2 separate regions of the Homo sapiens genome follow, and region 1 is linked to region 2. The links come from fine-mapping of genetic effects on gene expression. A gene starts in region 2. The other region holds a variant in brackets. All regions are shown on one strand. Distances are between the middles of the regions.

Evidence for each region. PIP is the estimated chance that this variant, and not a neighbour inherited with it, causes the effect.
Region 1: its variant is the best candidate, but not a certain one, in a credible set for the expression of ADRA2A in nucleus accumbens (GTEx, PIP 0.64).

The regions. Positions count from the first base shown.
Region 1 is chr10:111,162,270-111,165,178 of GRCh38, forward strand. No RefSeq gene overlaps it. Among named protein-coding and RNA genes, the nearest start is that of HEAT2, 49 kb to the left of the region's middle. The variant T/C (reference allele first, on the strand shown) is at 1,429.
Region 2 is chr10:111,075,563-111,078,471 of GRCh38, forward strand. ADRA2A (adrenoceptor alpha 2A) reads left to right here and starts at 1,467. Exons shown (of 1, transcript NM_000681.4): 1 at 1,467-2,909. The coding sequence starts at 2,435. RefSeq lists a silencer at 1,430-1,479.

The DNA.
Region 1 (2,909 bases), 87 kb after region 2:
GAGCTGCTTGTCTGAAAGAAACTATATGTGATCAGAGATTTTAATCCATGCTGAGTGGGAGTCTATTTCCTATGGATTCTTTTCCCACTGCCTGGCCCCATACATAGCCTCTGGACTCCCCTTTAATCTGTAAAGCAGGCTTTGGGGGTGCTCCCATCTCTCTCCTAATACCATCCTCCCTTAAAATGCTCCCGAGGATCTTTTAGAGCAATGTATATGGTTTTCTCCCCACCCCCCAGCAATCTTATTGTACATAATTTCCTTTTTGAAAACTGCACGAGTCATAAATGTATCGCTTGATGAACAGTCAGACACAGAACACACCTTTCTATTCAACACCCAGATGAAGATAGAATATTGCCAGCAACCAAGAAGCTTCCCCTGTGATTTCTTCCAGTCAATACTTGTCCCCTACCACCCCATAAGAGATCTGCTATCCTAACTTCTAATGCCATAGTTCAGATTGTCTGTTTTTGAACTACAAATATAGACTCATACTTTTGTGTGTCTCTGGTTTCTTTGGTTCAAGTTTATGTTTTTGAGATTCATCTCTGTTGTTGGATTTATTTGTAGTTTGAACATTTTAATTCTGTAGTATTTTTATGAATACTTATCCTACTATTACTAGATGTTTGGTTATTTGAATTTTAGGACATTATGAGTAATACTGCTATAAACGTTTTTGTACATGTCTGTAGGTTAACATGGATACACGTATCTGCTGGTTATATTGCCAGGAATGAAATTTCTGGATACTAGGGAATGCATATGCTCAATTTTAGTAGCAATTGCTAAACAGTTTTCAATGTGCTTGTACTAATATACATTCCCACCAGTGGTGGCATATGAGAGCTCTAGCTGCTTCACATTGTCCCCAACACTTGCCAATGTTTGCCTTTTTCATTTTAATCGTTCTTGTGGGGGTATAGTGGTATCTGATTGCGGTGTTTCAATTTTGCATTTTCCTGATGACTAATGAAGCCAAGCACGTTTTCATCTACTTATTAACTAACTTGGATATCCTCTTTTGTGAAGCACCTGTTCAAGTCTTTTGCCTATTGTCTTATTGGATTGTCTGCCTTTTACTTATTGGTTATAGGAGTTCTTTATATATTTTTGGGCAAGTTCTTTTTAAAAAAATCCTCTTCATAATATCTCTTAACGTACAGAAGTTCTTAACTTTATCAATTTTTTCCTTTATGGCTAGTATATTTTGTGGTTTAAGAGATCTTTGTCTACCCTAATGTACTAAAAATAGTCTCATGTTTTCTTCTGAAAGTTTTATGGTGTTGCCTTTAGCACTTAGATCCACAGTTCATCTGAAACTCTTGTTTGTGTATGGTATGTAGTAGAGGTCAGGACTAATTTTTTCCCCATATAGATATCTAAGCGAATCAGCATCCATTATTGAAAAGGTCATCTTTTTCC[T/C]GCTGCGCTGTGTATCCGCTTTTGTTGTAGACCAGATGACTGCCATCTTTCTGTGTTTCTGGATAGACTTCTGTGTTGTTGGTCATTTTGTGTTCATCCAATACCTCACTGAAAATTTGATACCAGGTAGTGTAAGTTCTTTGTTGCTATTCTTCAAGACTACTTTTTGCTTTACATGCATCTCTATATATTTTAGAATCACTTGTCACCTTCCAAAGGAAAACCTGCTGGAATTTTGAGTGAGTTTACACACAACTGTAGATCAATTTGGAATTTGACATCTTTCCAGAATTGAGTCTTCTAATTCATAAGCATGCTCTATTCCTCCATTATTTGCATCTTCTTTCATTTATTTCAATAATGTGTTGTAGTTTTCAGTGTAGACATCTTCTATTTGTTTATTTTATTATTGTATTGATCAGTTGTCCTAGGAATTTATCCATTTTGTTAATCTTTCAATGTCTCAACTTTGAAAACTTTGTTGATTGAAGCCATGTATTTTTTTTTCTTTTTGGAAACATTGTTTTTGCTTCAGAAGTTTTCTTCTGAAGTAATTTTAGAGTTACAAGAAGAATTGTGAAGATAGTACAGAGTTCCCATATATTTTTCACTTGGATTACCCTAATCTTAACATCTTACACAACTGTGGTACATTTCTGTGAACTAAAAAACTAGCATTGGTACAACAAATATTAACTAAACTGCAGGCTTTATTTGCATCCCCACAAGTGTTTCCACTAACATTTTCCCCCTCTGATTCTGGAGCCAATCCAAGATACTACACTACATTTCGTTGTGATGTGTCCTTAGTCTCCTCCAGTCTGTGATAGTTTCTCGATATTTCCTTTTTTCTTCATGGCCTTGTCACTTTGTTGGTTCAGTGTTTTGTAGTGTCCCTCAGTTTGGTTTTGTCTGTTATGTTCTCATGATCAGACAGGTTATGGACTGGGGAAGGGTGCCTCAGAGATGATGATTCCTTCTCATTACCTCATATCAAGGGCTATATGATATCAATATGACATAGTACTGGTGATATTAACTTTGATCACTTAGTTAAGATGCTGTCTGTCAGGTTTCTCCCTTAGAAAGTGATGGTTTTTCCCTTTCTATATTCTGTTCATCAGAAGACAGCTGCTAAGTCTAGCCCTCACTCAAGTGAGGGAAAGTAAGCTCTGCTCCCGGGAGAGAGGAGTAGCAAAAATTTTGTGAACATTTTAAAACTTTCACTGTAATCAATAAATATTGGTGGAAGATACTTTAAGCTCTGCAAATATCCTGTTTCTCAAAGTTCACCCACTAATCTTAGTATACATCAGTGGAGATTGCCTGCAGCAGCTAGCTATTGCTATGGTACTCTGATAGTGATTTTCTACTTCTCTTATTCCTTCCACTTTTAAAAAAGCTGGAATTTTTCTATTAAAAAATTGTCTCTTCTGGCCAGGCATGGTGGCTCACACCTGTAATCCCAGCACTTTGGGAGG
Region 2 (2,909 bases):
CTTAAATAAGACGACATTCCTTTAAGTCTAATCTCTCTCCTGCTGAAATTTCCTACCCTCTTGGGTTTTACCATTAAACTGCTTGCTCTCATCTGAAAAGTGCAGCTAGCAGGGTGCAAGCTAGTGCTCTAGTGACCGTTAAAATCTATCCTAGGACAGCTAGCACGCACGGAAAAACTTGCCATTCGCCGCACACCCACTCCCCCCCGCCCCCACCGCTATTCTTATCAGAGAGAACATGGAAAATATTCTACTCCCTCTTCCCCTTATTGAAGGATGCTGTGTGTACATCTGAATGGGGGTGGGATGCGGGGCGGGAGTGGAGTCTAGCTTTCGGTCCTCAACAAAAACATAATGATTCCCAGCAAGCCAGAGCTGTGCAACCAAGGAGGCAGGATCCTGGCCTCTCTCGGATCTGCAGGAAGGGTGGGCTGTGCGGGTCCAGAGTGGGATGCCCGTTCTGGCCGGCGGTGCCTGCTGAGCCCTTCCTGATGTGACTTTATTAGACAAACCCCCACTCCCGCCAGGGGTAGACACACGAGTATCTGCTTTAGGAAGATTTCTGCAACACGGCAGGGTGCAATTCAAACTCTGGGTTCTCCTTTCCTGAGCTTAGAAACCAATTTGTTCGGAGATAGGAGAAGGCTCTGTTGGCAGAAGACCTAAGAGACGGGAGGAGGCGCCTGGCGTCAGCGGGTCGCTTCTCAGCCGTGACCACGAGCGGCCAGCAGGTGTCAGTGCGTCCTCGCTTTGCCCTGGCGCTCGGCTCCTGGACCCCTCCCCACCTCGGTCTAAGGGGGCGCGGTCCAGACCCCGGGTCTTGCGTTTCCCGCAGACAGCATCGCGGCTGGGAGGACACGTAGCCGCTTCTTCCCTAAGCGGAGGTCTGAACTCCGGCTTGTACCACTTCCCCGTGGGTGCTGTCCATTCCGCCCCAGGGGTTCCATCCGAAGCCGCGCCTTCCTCCCTCTCCAGGACCCCTTTCTCCCCAGCCTCCAGGAGCACCTGCGGACCGCGTCGGCTCTGGCCCGGAGCTGGGCTGCTCCAGACGTAACTCACACCGGAGGTTACTTCCCTCGATTTGGGCGGGGATTCCCTTCCATTTTTTTCTTCCCTTTTCTCCCAAGATCCAGCTTCTTGGGGGCACTCACGGGTGCCCGTTGCGTTCTGCTCCGTCGGCCCGGAGCTGCATGGCCAACTCCCAGCAGGGGCCGCTCCTCCCCTACCCCCCACCCCCGGGCTCCCTCTTTAAGTCTCTAGCTCAAGGTACCCGCCTCTCCAAAGGGCTCGTCCCGCCTGAGGGCAACGCTCCCCGAGGTCCAGCGCTAGGCGCGGGCGCTAGACTGGCGGAGGGGTGGTGCGAGGGGCGGGGGAGGGTCGGCTTCCCACGTGGGGGCTGACGCCGGCTGCTCAGCAACGCTTGCTTGATCCTGGGGCTATAAAACGAGTCCACCGTGAGCGCAGCGGAGCAGCAGCAGCTCCAGCTCGGTGCAGAAGCCCAGCAGCCGGCGTGCCGCCGCCCGGCCACTCCAGCGCCTTCTTCCCCGCCTTGCGCTCCTGCCCCAACTCGCGCTGTCGTCGGACCCCGGCCCATCCAGCAGCGCTCGGCGCCCACCAGGCGGACGCCCAGGAGAACCCCTGCCTCCGTCGCGGCTCCTGGAGAGCTGATCGTTCACCTGCCCCGGCCCGCCTGAGGACGGGGGTGCCTTCATGCGGCCCCCACACTCCTCACCCCGCCGCCGCCGCCGTCCCGGAGCTCCGCACAGTGTGCCCCAGCCCCAGCAGGGCGCACAACTTTGGAAGTCTCGCGGCGCTCCGAGAGGCGGCAGAGTCCGCGCCCCAGCCCCGGGCCGGGCCGGGCCAGAACCGCAGCGTCTGGGGGAAGCCAGAGAGTCGGTAATCGCTTCGGGGATGTAAGGCGACAGACATAGGACCCCCGAGCTCGCATCAGCACCCTTCGGCTGCCTCCCGGGGTGGGGGCGGGCCCCGCACACGGTAAGACCTCTTGCTTTCGCTCAGGCTCAAGATTCAAGATACAGATATTGATATGTATATATATATTTAATTTCCTGTCATCCTTCCAAGTTATCAGGCCACCGATGATTTTTGTTCTCCCTTCTTGAAGAATAAATCTCTCTTTACCCATCGGCTCTCCCTACTCTCTCCCGCCGCTTAGAAATAAAACTTGGCTGTATTAGGAGCTCGGAGCAAGAAGGCGCCCACCGAGAGCGTCTGAAGCGCGAGCCAGGCGCAGTTCGCGGGACCCGGGCCATGGGCCGCTAGCGGTCCTCCAGTTCGGGCCCGGCCTCCCTGCGGCCCCCTCCCTATGTGAGCCGCAGCCAGGCGAGCGGGGCGCCGGAGGAAGAGGAGGACCCACGGGCGCCGGGCCGGAAGGCAGCTGGCAGCAGGCCCAGGCCAGCGGGCGCCCGCGTTCATGTTCCGCCAGGAGCAGCCGTTGGCCGAGGGCAGCTTTGCGCCCATGGGCTCCCTGCAGCCGGACGCGGGCAACGCGAGCTGGAACGGGACCGAGGCGCCGGGGGGCGGCGCCCGGGCCACCCCTTACTCCCTGCAGGTGACGCTGACGCTGGTGTGCCTGGCCGGCCTGCTCATGCTGCTCACCGTGTTCGGCAACGTGCTCGTCATCATCGCCGTGTTCACGAGCCGCGCGCTCAAGGCGCCCCAAAACCTCTTCCTGGTGTCTCTGGCCTCGGCCGACATCCTGGTGGCCACGCTCGTCATCCCTTTCTCGCTGGCCAACGAGGTCATGGGCTACTGGTACTTCGGCAAGGCTTGGTGCGAGATCTACCTGGCGCTCGACGTGCTCTTCTGCACGTCGTCCATCGTGCACCTGTGCGCCATCAGCCTGGACCGCTACTGGTCCATCACACAGGCCATCGAGTACAACCTGA